Linked DNA regions of Homo sapiens. The protein of the gene in region 1 interacts with the protein of each later gene in a biochemical or structural test. Each region holds a gene or a part of one and is shown on either strand. Other genes may lie near its edges.

Region 1 (5,428 bases):
ATGTGACCGGGCACGGTGGCTCACGCCTGTAATCCCAGCACTTTGGGAGGCCGAGGTGGGCAGATCACGAGGTCAGGAGTTCGAGACCAGCCTGGCCAACATGGTGAAACCCCATCTCTACTAAAAATACAAAAATTAGCCGGATGGGCCGGGCGCGGTGGCTCACGCCTGTAATCCCAGCACTTTGGGAGGCCGAGGCGGGCGGATCACGAGATCAGGAGATCGAGACCATCCCGGCTAAAACGGTGAAACCCCGTCTCTACTAAAAATACAAAAAATTAGCCGGGCGTAGTGGCGGGCGCCTGTAGTCCCAGCTACTTGGGAGGCTGAGGCAGGAGAATGGCGTGAACCCGGGAGGCGGAGCTTGCAGTGAGCCGAGATCCCGCCACTGCACTCCAGCCTGGGCGACAGAGCGAGACTCCGTCTCAAAAAAAATAAAAATAAAAAAAAAAAAAAAAAAAAAAAAAAATTAGCCGGATGTGGTGGCACGTGCCTGTAATTCCAGCTACTCGGGAGGCTGAGGCAGGAGAATCATTTGAACTTGGGAGTCAGAGGTTGCAGTGATCTGAGATTGCGCCATTGCACTCTAGCCTGGGTGACAGAGTGAGACTTTGTCTCCAAAAAAAAAAAAAAAAATTAGTAGATCTTATATTACTGCTTTTGGAAGCAATTAGTGAATGATGTAGGCAAAATAGTGATTGAATTTTGAAAAGCAATTAGACTGAAATTTCAAAGGGGTGGAGCATTTCTTAATAGCAACAAACAGATACATGGTCATTAATCCAAATATCTGAAATTTTCTGAGCATGTTTTTCAGAGTTTGGAATAGAGTGGAAGTGCTAATTTTCTGATTATTTAAGAACCTTTTAATCCATTCCCTTAGAGCATCAGGTGTTTTCAGATTGTGAATTTTCTAAAATAACATTGGCTGATTTGTGTTATTGAACATTGGTTGTAGCAACTTTTTTCCTTTTTTCCCCTTTATTTTCTGCCTCCCATATTTTGCTTAAGATTTTTTTCTGAAGTTTTAAAGTTTCATCAGTTATTTGGGTGGACCGTCTTGTGAATGCTCTAATTGAAGTTGTATAATATAAACAGTGTTGCTTTTAGTAGTTAGGATTAATTTTTCTTTTCATGGAAATCCTTTCTATTTGATTATATTTTTTCCTCTAACTTTTATTAATTCTTAGATGAGAATTAGGATTCTGCATTAAATCTTTCTGCACACATTTTTCTTACTGTCAGTAGGGACCTATGTCTTCCTTGGGTAAAGAAAATGTTATATTTTGGTTTTGCCATTTAAAATGATATAAAGACGTTATTAGTACTTTTTTAAAAAGGAACTTTTGGTATTTTTAAACAAGTACAAAAGTAGGTATGAACCACCATGTACCTGTTACTCAGCTTCAAATAGTATCAAATCTTAGTCATTACATTGTTTCATTCGTACTAGAACTTTTTTTCTTTTTTTTTTTGAGATGGTCTCTGTTGCCCAGGCTGGAGTGCAGTGGCATGATCCTAGCTCATTGTAGCCTTGAACTCCTGGGTTCAAGCAATTCTCCCACCTCAGCCTCTCAGGTTGCTCTGACTACAGGCACAGGACCATGCCCAGCTAATTTTCTTATTTTTTGTGGAAATGGGGGCTCACCCTGTTGCCCAGGGTAGTCTCAAACTTCTGGGCTTAAGTGATCCTCTTATCTCAGCCTCCCAAAGTGCTGGGATTGCAGGTGTGAGCCACTATGCTGTGATATAATAAAATGTCTTTATTTATTTATTTTGAGATGGTGTCCGACTCTGTCACCCAGGCTAAAGTGGCAGTGGTGCCATCCCGGCTCACTGCAACTTCTGCTTTCTGGGTTCAAGCGGTTCTCCTGCCTCAGTCTCCCAAGTAGCTAGAACTACAGGCGTGTGCCACCATGCCCAGCTAATTTTTATATTTGTGGTAGAGACAGGGTTTCACCATGTTGGCCAGGCTGGTCTCAAACTCCTGACCTCAGGTGATCCACCTGCCTCAGCCTCCCAAAGTGCTGGGATCACAGACGTGAGCCACTGTGCCCTGCCAAAATCAGGATTATTTAATCAACTTTTCTTTTTTTCTTTTTTTTTTTTTTTTTTGAGATGGAGTTTTGCTCTTGTTGCTCAGGCTGGAGTGCAGTGGTATGATCTTGGCTCACTGCAACCTCCACCTCCCGGGTTCAAGCAACTCTCCTGCCTCAGCCTCCTCAGTAGCTGGGATTACAGGCGCCCGCCACCACACCTGGCTAAGTTTTTGTATTTTTAGTAGAGACAGGGTTTCACCATGTTGGCCAGGCTGGTCTTGAACTCCTGACCTCAGGTGATCTGCCCGCTTCGGCCTCCCAAAGTGTTGGGATTACAGGCCTGAGCCACTGCACCCAGCCTTAATCAATTTTTCAAACAGACTTTGCTTATGGAACCACTTCTTGGAAAATTTGGCAGAACTTCTTTGTAGAGTTTATCTTGTCAAGAATACTTTCATAATGATATAATTAGCACTGTCCAAAGCAGTGTACAAATAATGTGTGCTACATGTAGTATGAGTCCAGTCTGTTTGTACAGGGATATCTTCAGACTAAAGTCCTAGGAGTGAGGCTTCCTGAAGAAGATGAGTCTTGAATAAAGATTGTGTACTGTTTGTATAGGCTAGCATATCCAGAAGGAGAACATTATGTACGTTCTATATAGGGAATGGAAGCATGTCTTAGTTCATTTTATGCTGCTATAACAGAATACCACAGACTGGATAATTATAATCGACAGAAATGTATTTGGCTCATGGTTTTGGAGACTGGGAAGAACCAGAACATGGCACTGGCATCTGGCAGGGCCGTCATGCTATGTCATCCCATGGTGTAAGGTAGAAGAGCAAGAGAGGGTGAGAGAACAAGAACAGAGAGGGCAGAACTTGCTTTTTATCAGGAACCTACTTCCATTACTATGGCATTATCATTGATGAGGGTAGAGCCCTCATAGCCTAATCACCTCTTTTAATGGCCTCAACTCTTAATACTACCACACTGGCAATTAAATTTCAATATGCGTTGTGGAGGAGACATTTAGACCACAGTAAAGAATGAGCAAACACTTGATAGGGGCTAGCATGATGTGAGAGGGATGTAAGGAGTCTGATCTCAATGGAATAAAGTGTTAATTACTGGGAATGGTGGCAGATAAATTTGTATTAGTAGGGTAGAGCTAGATTATGAAAGGTGTATTGGTGTCAGGTTGAATTTAATCTGCTAAGCAATAAGAAGCCAGTAGAGGTTGATAGGGAGCAGGAGAAAACATGAGAGTGTTTTTCAGAAAGATTACTCGTTCAATAGTGTGCAGCATATTTTGGGGATGACACTTGAGGTTTGTTTGAAAAATTAGAGACCAAGCCACTGAGGTAAGGAGCTATTCTGAGAGACGTTAGGATGGAAATTCTACAGGATTTGTCAGATAATTGATTCCATCTTCTCTTTAGTCCCTCATGCCCTAAAGTGACACCAAGGTTTTGAAGAGTAGAGAACTGAGGAAATGTGGTCTATTTGTCTTTGATAGTAAACTGCAATTTGTTATCCAAGCCCAGCTTTTGCGAAGAAAGTGATAGATGATTACTCCAATAACAGCCTCAAAAAGTTTTAGTAGGCCTGGTGTGGTGGCTCACACCTGTAATCCCAGCACTTTGGGAGGCTGAGGTGGGAGGATTGCTTGAGGTCAGGAGTTTGAGACCAGCCTGGCCAACATAGTGAAACCCCGTCTCTACTAAAAATACAAAAATTAGCTAGGTATGGTGGTGTGCCCCTGTAATCCCAGCTACTTGGGAGGCTGAGGCTAGGATAATTGCTTGAACCCGGGAGGCGGAGGTTGCAGTGAGCCAAGATGGCACCACTGCACTCCAGCCTGGGCTACAGAATGAAACTCTGTCTCCAAAAAAAAAAAAAAAAAGGTTTAGTAGAAAATAGCTACCAGTGTTTCTGAATGATTTTAAAGATATTCACTGGAGAATAGGAGCTTGGAAAATAAAGAAATATTATCTTTATTACAGTAAGAGAAATGAACATACTTCATTTGTAAAAGAGAAATTTAGGCCTTACCTGCTTCCTATGTGTATATTAGTTCAGAACGGTTATTAGGAGACTACTCACATTTGAATAGCTATAACCAGTAAATATTACTGGATGACTTTAATAATGGCCTGATCAGAGCTAAAGAAAATTCTGATGAAGTAGGGCATTAAATATTTCTAGCTACCAACTCCCTTTAAGGATGAATAAAGGTAGGTCCGCAGGCTGAGGAAGTATACAGGGAGATTGTGAAATGAAAACTTATCCTTTCATTTACTTCGATATCTTTGTTTTGCACAGGTAATATTAAAAAACAGGTCTGGTTAAACATCAGCCGTATATGTTTTGGTTGGAATTTTTTTTTTAAGTTCTGTGAACTTTGAAGTTTTTTTAAAATTCTTTGTTTTGGTTTGTAGACCCTGCATTAAGCCAACTTTCTGGATCTGTTGTGTATTTCTGGATAGCATACTTTGTTTTGTGAAGGAAAATTTTACATTTTATTTTAAAGCTGGGGGAAAAAAGTAGGTTTCTTGTTTCTCGCTTTGTAAATGAGGTAGATGAATAATACTGTATTGCCACTTATTATCTTCATGCTTCCTTCAATGTCTCAGGTATTCCTCTACTGTATGTAGCATGTGGATCTCAAAGTTTCCCACAGTTGAGTCTGAAAACATCTCAACTGTGCTTATAATTTTAAAATTAAACTTAATTTTACCATTTTCTTTATTGTTATTATAAAATATAGGACCTATCATAATGCCATGAACCTTTTAGTGACTTGGGAAATAGTGATTAAGATGATGCAACATAGTACATTATTGGGAAATAATCTGTTTTTCGTTGGCATCGCCTCTATCCTTAGACCTCTTTCATTCTAGTAATATGACAGAAATATTTTTGACATTTTAAAACTTCCTCATTTAGCTGATCGTGTGTGCTGTTGAAAATGAACACTAGAATAGAAAGCCATTGCCTTCTCCTTGGGGGGTTTGTTTTAACAGGGGTTTTCATGTTTTAATTTTGGATTTGAGATTTGAGTTGAGATATCCATTGTGTAGAGAATCTTGAGAAGGATTATCCATCTTTCTTGCTGTCACCAGTGTATGTGGGAGGGAAGAAAATATCAAATATAGGGTATACAGGAGAACCTTAGTATTTGGGAATATCTTCAGTGATAGCTGCCAAATCCAGTGTTTTCCCCAGGAAATTTGTATTTAATCCCTTGGAGTATGGGATGACTTTATGAGTGTCATAGTGGGTTGCTGTGGGTGAGGAGAGGAGAAAACGACTCCCTGTTTGAAAAATCTTTTCCAAACTGTTCGAAAATTTGAGATTAAATTGAATTAATCTCAAATTATTAA
Region 2 (5,428 bases), on another chromosome or scaffold:
TCTTAGAATCCTAGAATCTTAAAACCGAAAGATCTTAAAGATAAATGAACTTTGCCATTTTTCCCATCCATGCAACTCAGCTTCTTTGAAGGATACTCCACTGCCTCACAGCACAGGGTGTCTCAAATAGTTAACAGTGTTTGCCAACCTCTTCTATTCGGCCTTGGCCTTTCCTGTTAAATTTTTTTTTTTTTTTTTGAGACAGAGTCTCGCTCTGTTGCCCAGGCTGGAGTGCAGTGGCGCGATCTTGGCTCACTGCAAGCTCTGCCTCCCAGGTTCACGCCATTCTCCTGCCTCAGCCTCCTGAGTAGCTGGACTACAGGCGCCCGCCACCACGCCTGGCTGTTTTTTTTTGTTTGTTTTTGCTTTTTTTTTCTTTTATATTTTTAGTAGAGACGAGGTTTCACCGTGTTAGCCAGGATGGTCTCGATCTCCTAACCTCGTGATCCGCCCGCCTCGGCCTCCCAAAGTGCTGGGATTACAGGCATGTCTTCCTTCTGCTCTTTGAGTCCAGTCTTTTATGAGAGAATAGGAAAAAACACTTCCTTTAGGTTTTGATCATTCTTATCTACCATATCCTTTAGTTTTTCTTCATTTGGTATGGTTAACATCTTTGACCATTTTATCTGCCTTCTTCAAACTGCAGAATTTGTCTGGTTTTCTTAAAATGGCGCTGTGGCATCCAGAATAATACACAATGCTTGTGTAGGATGGATAGGAACTTTGCTCCATGAAACCCTGCGCTGCACTGTTGTTATTTGTACTTTTATTTCTCATGTACATAAGAAACCCTTCTGAGAGGATTTGAGATTCTTGTAGGTATATGTAAATCATTGTTTTTGCTCTCATTTTGGAACAAAGCAGTTATTGAATTTACAGATGGCTCATGGCCCTGGGATTTTTTCCCCCTCCTTAGTGAGTTAATTCTTAAGCCAAGTCAGCCCCATTTTGTTGCTTTGTTCAGTATGACTTTAAAAAATCTAAGTGCAAGTGTATATTTGTCATTAGGGTGTTTTGTTGTTAGCTTTGTGACATTGTAGAGTTTTGATTCTCTGATGCATTACGCTGGCTTTCATCCTTCCCTTCACTGTTTCCTCTGCCCACCCACTCTCCCAGTCACCTGCCTGCCCCGTTCGTGTTTTGCTCACTCTTGTTTGTTATAACCATCTGTATTATTGAAAGTGTTGGCAAGGCAGGGTCAGATATAGAGCACTGCTAGTGCATTTCTGATTGACATCAGCCCATTAACATTATGTTTTGAATGTGTATATAGAACATGGTATGAATCATTTTTACTTATATCAGAAACTGAAAAAACAATATTTTCTATAGTCTGACATCTTACTAGTAACTATAACATAGTTATGGATGATCTGATAATTTTGATACATTTTAAAATTTTGAAACATTTTATTACTTAGTTTCATTTTACTTATTTCAAAAATATTTCCAGGAAATCCCCTTACCCAGGATATATTGAACCTTTATCAGGAACCAGATGGAACAAGACGGCTGCTGAACTATTTGCTTGATAATTTGTCAGGTACTGCAAAAAGAAGTAAGTGGTTATTTGTTTAAACCTTTTTATTAGGAAGACGTGTAAGAATATTGCTTAATTCTGTATTTTCTATTCAACTAGTTACAACAGAACAACCACCTCCAAGGTCTTGGATTATGTTACAAGAACCAGATAGGACAAGGCCAACTGGTTGGTAGTCTTTTATTTTTTAACTGTTATTTTTGCTCAGTCTCTATAAGCCTAACAGTATTGTCAGCATGCTTAGATTACAGGTAGCATTAAGACAAAATGTTTAAGGTTGGTTTGGTTTGGGAGGTAATAAAAAAGAATTCTTGCTCACATGACCTCTATGTATACTACATTGTGCTATATAGAAAGTGTGCTATAAAGCAGTGCTTCTCAAACGGGCAGTTTATCCCCCAGAGGACATTTGGCAATGTCTGGAGACAATTTTGATGGTCGTAACTGGGGAGAAGTGCTGCTGGCGTCTGGTGGATGGAGGCCAGGGTTGCTGCTCAGCATTCTATAGTACACGGCACAGGCCCCCACAACAGACTTCACCTGAAATGTCAGTAGTGCGACTCTGGTTGAGAAACCCTTCTGTAGTGTACTGATGAAATTCACTTAAAATGAATACACCCAAATTTTTCTCTATGAGAAGTTTCCAAATCCTAGCATGTTCCAAATGGATTTGACACTACCGAGTTATAAGAGAGCCAAACCCTTACTTAGAGGAAAGTGGAACTAATGACTGCTCATCTCCTTTTAACCTAAATTCTATGTAAATAGTTTGGGAGCTTTCATGGTGCGTGTAACAAAATTTGGTCTGTGATACCGTTTTCATTTTGCATGAATTAACAATAGTTGTGCTGTAGAAGAAAATGAGGCATGCCTATTAAGGATACTACCTATCCAGTTTCCACATCTTACATTAACAGTTGGTAGCATGGTAGAAGGAGTATAGAAATGAGGAATGTTAGGCTCAGAGACTGAAGGGCTCACGAGCTTAGACTTTTCACTTCCAGACCTTCTGTGCCTACCTCTGTAGCAGGTAGTACATTGTATTCTAACTTGTTCACTTATCTATCCTGCTTGCATTATCCGTCTTTTATTTATCCCCCATATGTGGCGTACAGTAGCTTTTCAGTGACTATAGATTGAATGAATACGGTCAAACTTAACATTTAAGTGAAAACCATTACTGAAATTAATTATATATTTTTTTCTGCCACATGTGTGAATAAGTAAAGTTATCTTTCCTACAGCCTTGTTTTCTGTCATGTGCTATAATGTTCTTTGTGATAAATATGCGACCCGGCAGTTATACGGCTACTGTCCATCATGGGCGCTAAACTGGGACTACAGGAAAAAGGCCATTATTCAAGAAATCTTGAGCTGCAATGCTGATATCGTAAGTCTTCAGGTAAGTCAGACAGAAGACAGTCAACCTAGCATTGATAAAGGAAGGAGCAACTAGGAATACATTACGCTGACACATTTGAAGTTTTAGCTTCAGTAGTTCTTAAAGTACTGCTTTTTTCTGTTATTAGTGAATCCTGGGAGTACTGCCTGCTTTGCTTTGCAGTGCTATGTTGCAAAATAGGCAAATGTGTTAAGCTGGGATTTATGCGTTTGCCATGACCGCTAAATACTCACCTTCCTCCTCCCTCCAGCGTCCCTGCACTATTTTTGAATTGGGTGGCAAAGTTACTGAAATTCTAGCGTGGTCAAGCTATAACTTGCATTGCCGACCATGTTGCTAGAACAATTAAGGCACCGTGTAAAAAGGACTGACTTGGTACACGAACATTTTGGGTTCTCAGTGCAACTCTCATAGTCACTCATATGATCTTGAACATGTTACTTTCTGCCCAAGGGTCTGAAGTTATGATTTGTAAAGTTCGTCGACCTCTGTGGTTCTTGTTCCACCTCAGTTCTAAGACATAAGGAAATACACATGCATAGAAGTGTGTCTTTCACTCACTGTTCTTAAACAACAATGAGTTGCCCTTGGTACCTAGTACCTGTAAAATGACAAGTCGCTGTTCCAGTTGGTTTCAGATAAATAGTGTTGAAAAGATGTTACTTTTTTTTTTTTTTTTTTTTTTTTTTTGGGTGGTGGGGAGACAGGCTCTTTCTCTGTCCCCCAGGCTGGAATGCAGTGGCATGATCTCAGCTCACTGCAACCTCCGCCTCCTGGGTTCAAGTGATTCTCAGCCTCCGTAGTAGCTGGGATTACAGGCATGCACCACCATGCCTGGCTAATTTTTGTATTTTTAGTAGAGATGGGGTTTCGCCATGTTGGCCAGGCTTGGTCTGGAACTCCTGGGCTCTAGTGATCCGCCCGCCTCGGCCTCTCAAAGTGCTGGGGTTACAGACATGAGCCACCATGCCCGGCCCGGAAAGATGTTACATTCTTTAATCTGCAGACCAGTCCTTTGAAATTATTTCAAGCTCTCAAACTATACATAGAAGTTAATATGCAGACTAATTTTTGTCTTATGAAATAACTGTGCTGTTTACAACTTTTCAGGAGGTTGAAACGGAACAGTATTACAGTTTTTTTCTGGTAGAGCTGAAAGAACGTGGCTATAATGGATTCTTCAGTCCTAAGTCTAGAGCTAGGACAATGTCAGAACAAGAAAGGAAACATGTTGATGGCTGTGCAATATTCTTCAAGACAGAAAAGTAAGTCATCTTATTTTTTAAAAAGAACGTTTTCTCAGTATTTGCAGGGTGGGGGCCAAGGGTGTGGAAACTAATTGGCAAATGAGAGAATGAGGCACTATATTATTACTGAAGCAAAGAATACTGTTTGACCTAGGGGGTTTTTGTTTGTTTTTAATCATCAGAAATAACCTTGTTTTGGAGACATGCTTAAAGTACTGCTGTTTCTTCAGGTGTTTACTAGGGTTTAACTCCCAATTGTTAATTGAAATACCATGTAGTTAAAATTCCCTCTATGACGGTACAGGGATTCTTAAACCCATACTTTAGAAAAGAATTGTTTAAAAATTACAAGGTAGAATATTCCAACATAAAACTTAAACAGAAGATGACTACATTTTCTTCAGTTGTAAAAATATTTCAAGTTGTTATTTGTATCAATAACAGACTGAGAGCAACTTTAAATGGATGTGGGAAGCTTGATGCTGAACGTGGAGGATTTTCCGTAATGTGATTTAAGTGCCATCGTATCTGTTAAGGAAGTTTGGGAAAACTGCGTTTCCCACAAAGCTAACCTCTTGGTATTCCCAACTCTGTGTGTGTGTGTGTGTGTTGTTTTTGTTTTAGATTTACTTTGGTTCAGAAACACACTGTTGAATTTAATCAGCTAGCCATGGCAAATTCTGAGGGGTCTGAAGCTATGCTGAACAGAGTCATGACAAAAGATAACATTGGGGTTGCAGTACTGCTAGAACTTCGGAAGGAATCGATTGAAATGCCGTGTGAGTGCCCTTCACTTCCTGTAAAATTGACCAGCTCTGACTAGACATCTTCAAAAGAATAGAAAACAGAAATTTCATTGTGTATTCATGGTCTTGTCTAACACCTGAAGAAACTCAGTGAGAAGTTGTCTTTCCTAAAATGTATCTCTTTTTCTCTACCACAAAGCTTAACATGAGAAAGCATTGCCCATTAAAGTATTAGAAGCCTTGAAAAGCATTAAAAAACCTTTTTTTTTTTTTTTGCTCCTAAGAATTTTTCATATAAAATAAATGTTGAAGTAAATATTAATTAAAATAACTGCTCAGGGGTAAGAACTCCATACACTTTTGTAATTTTTTGGCAGCAAGGATATTCTGTAAGCTAACTTCTTTTCCTGATCTATTTAAAATAATCATTTTATTAGCTGGGTGTGGTGGTGGGCGCCTGTAATCCCAGCTACTTGGGAGGCTGAGGGAGAGA

What was found.
Region 2: the proteins of CNOT4 (region 1) and CNOT6 form a complex in vitro, tested with the Homo sapiens proteins (one study listed by BioGRID).

Annotation. Positions count from the first base shown.
Region 1 is NC_000007.14:135,499,504-135,504,931, reverse strand, and holds part of CNOT4 (CCR4-NOT transcription complex subunit 4), read left to right. Parts: intron 1-5,428. UniProt on the Homo sapiens protein: Has E3 ubiquitin ligase activity, promoting ubiquitination and degradation of target proteins. Involved in activation of the JAK/STAT pathway. Catalyzes ubiquitination of methylated RBM15.
Region 2 is NC_000005.10:180,563,036-180,568,463, forward strand, and holds part of CNOT6 (CCR4-NOT transcription complex subunit 6), read left to right. Parts: intron 1-1,453; coding exon 1,454-1,558; intron 1,559-1,639; coding exon 1,640-1,708; intron 1,709-2,784; coding exon 2,785-2,942; intron 2,943-4,052; coding exon 4,053-4,207; intron 4,208-4,813; coding exon 4,814-4,968; intron 4,969-5,428. UniProt on the Homo sapiens protein: Poly(A) nuclease with 3'-5' RNase activity.